2 linked regions of the Homo sapiens genome follow. The protein of the gene in region 2 purifies or fractionates together with the protein of the main gene of each other region. This does not show direct contact. Each region holds a gene or a part of one and is shown on either strand. Other genes may lie near its edges. The genes, in order: CHRDL2 and ANGPTL8.

What was found.
Region 1: the proteins of ANGPTL8 (region 2) and CHRDL2 purify together in Homo sapiens (affinity purification with mass spectrometry; one large-scale study listed by BioGRID and IntAct). This does not show direct contact.

The regions. Positions count from the first base shown.
Region 1 is NC_000011.10:74,721,161-74,725,181, forward strand, and holds part of CHRDL2 (chordin-like protein 2 isoform 2 precursor), read right to left. Parts: intron 1-4,021. UniProt on the Homo sapiens protein: May inhibit BMPs activity by blocking their interaction with their receptors. Has a negative regulator effect on the cartilage formation/regeneration from immature mesenchymal cells, by preventing or reducing the rate of matrix accumulation.
Region 2 is NC_000019.10:11,238,119-11,241,718, forward strand, and holds the start of ANGPTL8 (angiopoietin-like protein 8 precursor), read left to right. Parts: upstream 1-1,500; 5' UTR 1,501-1,519; coding exon 1,520-1,816; intron 1,817-2,016; coding exon 2,017-2,178; intron 2,179-3,326; coding exon 3,327-3,436; intron 3,437-3,541; coding exon 3,542-3,569; 3' UTR 3,570-3,600. Other genes in the region: DOCK6 (dedicator of cytokinesis protein 6), read right to left, coding at 69-186. UniProt on the Homo sapiens protein: Hormone that acts as a blood lipid regulator by regulating serum triglyceride levels. May be involved in the metabolic transition between fasting and refeeding: required to direct fatty acids to adipose tissue for storage in the fed state.

The sequences.
Region 1 (4,021 bases), on a different chromosome or scaffold from region 2:
GGGCCCAGCTGGGGTGCTGGTCAGAGCCAGCCCAACTCTCCAAGGAGTGAATAATGTCTTTCTTCCTCAGTCCCCTCCTCCCACCAGGGAGGGGGTGATTGCAACACTGCCACCACCTTAGGTCTCAGCCTGTTGCTGAAGAAGCCCTGTCCTCCCTTCCTTGGGGCAGCCCTGTAGCCCAGGTCTCTGTGCCAGTTGGCACCCCCTTCACCTCACCGCCTGCTCAGAGCATGAAGACAGAAAGAGTGTCTCAGCCAATGCCCAGGCAGGAGGCCCCTTCCCCCCACCAACAGACCTGGCAGAGGCTGAGAATGTGGGGGGCCTGGCAGGAGGCCTCCAGTGGCCACAATCCCCACCCCACCATACCCTAGAAGGTGACAGGCACAAGGAAGGGTGGCATGGCCTGGAGCTCTCTCTTCCTCAAGTGAGATGAGTGCCCAAGGCCATGCCAGAACCAAGCAGGAGGAAGAACTGCCAGACGGCGACAGGCCGCCTCAGTTCCTGCAGTGCTGGCACTAGCCCCAACCCTTGAACATGGCTGGTGAAAACAGTTTTAGTTCTTTAAGCCACAAGTTCACTGTGTGACATTCAGAGACTCATCCTCCTTTCTCTGAGCCTCAGTTTCCCATCTGCAAAATAAGGGGAGGGGGTAAGCTATGATCTTCAAAGATTTTCTGCATAGATACTTTATGAATCCATGATTTCAACATTTGAAGACTCCAAAATTCTAGGATTCTAAGGTTCAGGATTTTGAGAATTCCATGTTTCTAAGAACCTGTCTTTCCTTAGAACACAAAGCTTCTAGAATTGTCCAATGTTGTGGTTCTAAGATTCGATCATTCCAAGATTCTATGATTCTTGGATGTGTTGATGGTCTCATACATCTTAGGCTCTCAGAGGCTCCAAAGTGGGTTAGGATGAAGTTCAGGGAGCCAGTAGGACCAGTCCTGAGTGACACAGGTGTGTCACCTGAGTGTGAAGGAGGTAGAGTTTGTCTCATACCTCACTCCCTTCCCATACACTCCCTTTGGTCCTCTGTGGCGTTCCCACCTCTGCCCTGGCCTTGGACCTGCCCTGATTCCTCTCCCACCCCACCACCAAGTCTCATCCCACCTGTGCCCATGCATCCCTCCCCATCTCAGAGACCAAGCATGACTTTTCTCAGGGACCCTTTGGAGTCAGATCGGCTGGGGTTCAAATTGTGGATTTGGCTTTTATTTGCAGCCTGAATTTAGACAAGTTACCTAACCATTCTGGGCCTCTGTTTCCACATCTATTAAATGGAACTAATAACAATCTTTACCTCTCAGAGTTACTGTAGAATTAGGTCAGATAATATATGTAATATGCCTAGTGCCTGACATATATTATATGCTCAACTAAATAGGTTTAAAAAAAAACAGATCTGGGCACTGACCCCAGACTTCCTTAATAGTTTGTTTCCTGTGGTGTTTCTTTGACTCCCAGAGCTCTCTGTGGTCATCCCCAGGCACCTATTAGGGGATGAACATCATAGCACACACTGAGGCCAAATCTCCCAGGTCTCATTTACTACTGCACCAATCATGATTCTGGTGGCCTCCTGCATTCTTCTAGCCCCACTCATAAATCAGATTAGTTTGCCTCAACTCACCTCAGGCCCACAGACCTTGGGCGGGGATACAGAGATGAAAGTGGCTCAGAAGTTGGAGGAGAGAATGGGAAGGCAGGAGTGAGAGGCAAGAGACCAGTCTGGAAGGAGAAGCAGAGGCTCACGGAGGTCTTTGAGAGCCTGAGAGGCAAAGGAAAGCCATGGAAAAGCTTTAAACTGGGGAGTTCCATGATCAGATTTGCATTTTAGAATCATCACTGTGCTCACAGGAATGGAGAACTGATTGGAGGGCAAGACTGGAGGCAGGGAGACCAGGGAGGGGCTGTTGCAGTCATCCTGTTTTGAGATCATGCTGGACCTGGACCAAGATGGAAGCTGTGCTGATGGGCAAAAGTACAGATTTGAGAAACACTTAGGAGGTACAATGGGCAGGCTTTGGGACAGACTGGATAGGATATGGGTGGAGAAGGCAAAGGAGCCATCAAGGTCAGGATTGAGGTTTCGGGACTGAACACATACGTGAGTGTGCGGCACTTGGCATAACAGGCAGTAAACATTATTATCATTAGTAATACAGTAGTCCCCCCTCATCCTTGGGTGATACATTCCAAGACCCCCAGTGGATGCCTGAAACCACAGTTTGTACTGAACCCTACATAGACCATGCATAGATTTCTTTTGCCTTCTTTACAATTTCACAAATAGAAGATTCATCCTTACTGTAGATCTTAGCAAACTCACTATACCATTTTTTTCCTTTCCTTATTAATTGAGAACTTTTACCTTTTTACTTAAAGAAAGCACTTTATGGCTTCTCTTTGGCATATCCAAATTGCTGGCACTGCTACTCGTGCTTTGGTGCCATTATGAAGTAAAATAAGGGTTCCTTGAACACAAGCCTTGCAATACTGCAACAGTTGATCTGATCACTGAGACAGCTACCAAGTGATTAACGGGCGGGGAGCATCTACAGCGTGGGCACACTGGACAAAGGGGTGATTTACATTCTGGATGGGACAGAGAGGGATGGCAACAGAATTCACCATGCCACTCAGAATGATGTGCAATTTAAAACGTATGAATTCTTTATTTCTGGAATTTCCAATTTAACATTTTGGACCAAGGTTAATCACAGGAAACTGAGACCTCAGAAATTGAAACCATGAATACTGGGGGACTGCTACAGTAATATTACTTCCCATTATTCATTTATTTATTGAACTTTTTGTATGTCAAATATTATACACATTCATGGGCCTGGTACATGACTTAAAACAAAGTCACCTCCTGAAGGAGCTCACAGCCTAGTGAAGAACACAGATAGATACAATACATTCAGTCTGACAAACGCTATGATGGCGTGAGCATAGGGTCTTCAGGCGAGGCTTCTCTAGGAACATGCCTGAGCTGGATCTTGGAGAAATTAACAAGATGCAGAAGGGGAAGGACTTCTCAGGCAGTGGGTGCTAGATGCAAAGGCACAGAGGTGGGAGTGGATGTGGTTCATGAAGGACACAGAGGCTTCTCTTTGGCATATCCAAAGTGCTAGACACTAGCTCCCTTTCCCACAGGAAGTGTCCACTTGGATGGGCCACAGCCAAATCTCTTTACCTGTCTGAACAGACTTAAAGTGACTGGACTTAGTTGATCTAATCTGATTTCAGGACAGCAATGTTTACCAGACAGATTCCAAATGTCACTGTGTCATCCCCAGCCTATCATGAGGTGGCTCCTGCCTGCTTTTCCAGCAAAACTTTTTGTGGTGGCCCTGTTTTCAGCCTCACCTCCTCTTGCTAAATTCCTCACTCTTCCACCAGCCCCCAGGCCTCCTCCTACTGTGCCTTCAAACATGCTGTTTCCTCCACCTGGAATGGAATCCTCCATCTCCAATGTTTGACCAACTCCTTCCCATTCTTCAAAAGCCAGCTTAGATGCTACCCTTTCTGTGAAGCTGCCCCAAACTTCCAGCCACTGGCCTTTCCTGCAGAACTGAGTTCAGCCCTCATTACAATTCTCATCACAAATGGATTAGAGGTACTTCTTAAGTAAGCTTTGCTTCCTAACCAAACTGGGACCTTCTTGAGAGCAAGGACCAGATCTCATTAAATTTTGTGCTCAAGGTAGAGCCTACATAGAGTTCGTGCCTGATGAACGAAATCAATGATGAAAGAACAGAGTTAACAAAGAGGGAGAGATTCTGGAAGAGGAGCCAATTGACGGTCCTTAGTCCTGGAAGCTTCTTTCATTCTTTTTTTTTTTTTGAGATGGAATCTTGCTCTGTCACCAGGCTGTGGTGCAGTGGCGCAATCTCTGCTCACTGCAACCTCCGCCTCCCAGGTTCAAGCGATTCTCCTGCCTCAGCCTCCGAGTAGCTGGGACTACAGGTGAGTGCCACCACGCCCAGCTAATTTTTGTATTTTTAGTAGAGAT
Region 2 (3,600 bases):
GGAGAGTGGATTCATGAGGGACCCATGGGGGATGCCCTACCCCCCTTCCCTGGGGCACAGCCACTGACCGGCAGAGCCTGGCTGGGGTCCTCGCCTGTCATGTACTGCACTCGCACAGCAAGGTTGCGCACGGAGCCCTGGCGGCTGCTGAAGTTGAGGCTGTGCGGGTACACGTACAGCAGGTTCCTGTGGGGGGCAGGATGGGGGTGTCAGAGGGACAGGGGCCCTGAAGGTGCACATACAAGGCTGGGGTGATGGGACAAGGCTGGCTGGGAGCACAGACAGTCCAGGAAGAGTAGGTCATGAGGCTGGGGCATTGAGGGCCCGGTGAGAGGTAATACAGGTATCAGTCAGGAGATAGGACAGAGGGCAGAGGGTGGGGGACAAGCGAGCACCCTAAAAACACAGATTGGGAACAGTGTGGTAGAGGGTGGGAATACAGAAGGACATTGGAGGCACTCATGGGGCACAGTGACACACAGAAGGCAGAGAATAGCGAGGCACTCAGGGCCAGAGTTCCAAGGTACCTCAGGTGGCCAGTGGTCAAGCCTAAGCCCCACCCAAGGGCCTGACTGCCCTTCCCCCAGGAGGTCACTAGAGTTATGTGGCCTGTTTCTCAGGTGGGGAAACTGAGGCCAGAGTCCGAGTCCTGCCTCCTTCCCCCAGGGGCAACTCTGTGCAAGCCTTGACCCCTCTCTGGGCCTCAGTTTCCCTATGTGTATAATGGGCACTTCAGGCCTTCCAGCTGAGCCTTTGTAATGATACTGATGATGATAAATAACAACAATGACAATAATTGCACCAAACACTATTACTACAACAATGAAATAATCGCGCCTACTGTGTGCCAGGCTCTGTTCTAAGCACTCAACATGAAATAACTCATTTACTTCTCACAAGTAGCTCATGAGGCAGGACTAACATCACCGCCATTTTACAAGCAGGGAAACTGAGGTACTTGCACAATCACCCACGGAGTAAAATGGCAGTCAGTGGTGATCTGGGCATATGCAGGTCTTGGAGATCAGGCTGTGTGACCTTGGGAGAGTCTCTGCCACCTGCACCTGCCCCCTTGGATACTAACCAGGCCAATAAAAGCCCCCACGTGGCAAGTATGTGGGAGGGGAACAAGAGCAGATATTGTAATGGCAGGTCAAACAGCTCAGGGCAAACCATCAATGCTTATAAAATCTTTACTGTTATTACCATCATCATTGCGATGCCTATTCATAGATGGAGAAACAGGCTCAGCATGGTGAGTCTCAGGAACTCCCAGCAGGGTCTGGGGCCCGTCCTCTCCCAATGCCCCCCACCCACACCTGGCCCTGAGCCCCAGGAAGCGTGATCCCGGCGTGGCCTAGCCGGACATTCGCCTGATGCAACTATCGCACCACTGCCAGGCCCTTGTGCAATGCGGGGCACCAGGTCGGCCAGTTAACGATTGACTGGGGATCAGTGGGGGTATGAGGCATAAAAGGCTTCAGTGACAGTGCTGTGGCTATACCTTAGACCCTCAGTCATGCCAGTGCCTGCTCTGTGCCTGCTCTGGGCCCTGGCAATGGTGACCCGGCCTGCCTCAGCGGCCCCCATGGGCGGCCCAGAACTGGCACAGCATGAGGAGCTGACCCTGCTCTTCCATGGGACCCTGCAGCTGGGCCAGGCCCTCAACGGTGTGTACAGGACCACGGAGGGACGGCTGACAAAGGCCAGGAACAGCCTGGGTCTCTATGGCCGCACAATAGAACTCCTGGGGCAGGAGGTCAGCCGGGGCCGGGATGCAGCCCAGGAACTTCGGGCAAGCCTGTTGGAGACTCAGGTGGGCACCGTAGCTGCGACACTGTGGGGTGGCCAGGAGTCCAAAGAGGAGTTCGTGTCTAGGGTAACCAACCATCCTGGTTTGCCCAGGACTGAAGGGATTCCTGGGATACAAGATTTTCAGCGATAAACTCAGGCAAGTCCTTAGGTACACAAAGATGAGTTGGACATCCTACTAGTGACCCACTGTTTATTAAGCAGATGGAGGAGGATATTCTGCAGCTGCAGGCAGAGGCCACAGCTGAGGTGCTGGGGGAGGTGGCCCAGGCACAGAAGGTGCTACGGGACAGCGTGCAGCGGCTAGAAGTCCAGCTGAGGAGCGCCTGGCTGGGCCCTGCCTACCGAGAATTTGAGGTCTTAAAGGTAAGGAGCTCCCCCAACCCTAGTGGGCTGAGACCCTGATTTCCGGCCAGAACTCGCTTCTGCACCTTGAGTCCCAAAGACCTCCCAGATCAGCCTCCCAGCTCTGTGGCCTCTACCCTGCATGTCCCCAGACAAAACTCAAGTCCTTTTGTGTGCCTCAGTTTCCCTTTTGTGTGCCTCAGTTGCAAATAAGGGCAACACCTGATATCTCACAGTAGGGCCAGGTACTCAATGCAGGTAAAATATTCAGCATGGGGCGGGCACACAGTTGGTGCTCAATAAATTCTTTTTTTTTTTTTTTTTGAGACAGAGTCTCACTGTTGCCCAGGCTGGAGTGCAGTGGTGTGATCTTGGCTCACTGCAACCTCCACCTCCTAGGTTCAAGTGATTCTCCTGCCTCAGCCTCCTGAGTAGCTGGAATTACAGGTGCACCAGCTAATTTTTGTATTTTTTAGTAGAGATGGGATTTCACCATGTTGGCCAGGCTGGTCTCGAACTCCTGACCTCAAGGGATCTGCCTGCCTCGGTTTCCCAAAGTGCTGGGATTACAGGTGTGAGCCACTACACCTGGCCAATAAATTCTTACTACTAGAGAAACTGGTAACATTTTGTGAGCACCCAGTAAGTACCCAGCACTGTTCTATGCCCTTTAATAATCCATATGATGGCCGGGCATGGTGGCTCATGCCTGTAATCCCAGCACTTTGGGTAGCTAAGGTGGGTGGAACACTTAAGGTCAGGAGTTCGAGACCACCCTGGCCAACATGGTGAAACCCCGTCTCTACTAAAAATACAAAAAATTAGCTGGGCGTGGTGGCACATGCCTGTAGTCCCAGCTACTCAGGAGGCTTAGGTAGGAGAATCGCTTGAACCTGGGAGGTGGAGGTTGCAGTGAGCTGAGATCGTGTCATTGCACTCAGCCTGGGTGACAGAGAGAGACTCAAAAAAAAAAAAAAATCCATAGGATGTTCATCACCTCCCCATGAAGTGAGTCCTATTTTATCCCCATTTTACAGATGGGGAAACTGAGGCCAAAGAGCATTGTTGACTTGCTGGGTCACACAGATACAATGAGGGGCTGGGGCAGAGGGTCAGGGGATGGGAGGTGAGGTGGCTGTCGGCTGAGGTTTCCATTCTGACCCCCACAGGCTCACGCTGACAAGCAGAGCCACATCCTATGGGCCCTCACAGGCCACGTGCAGCGGCAGAGGCGGGAGATGGTGGCACAGCAGCATCGGCTGCGACAGATCCAGGAGAGGTGAGCCTGGCAGGGGTTTGGCAGGCAGGGCAGTTGGATGGGGGGCGCACAGGGCAGCTGGAAAGGGGCCCCCTCACCTGGGCTGAGCCACATCTCCCTCCCCAGACTCCACACAGCGGCGCTCCCAGCCTGAATCTGCCTGGATGGAACTGAGGACCAATCAT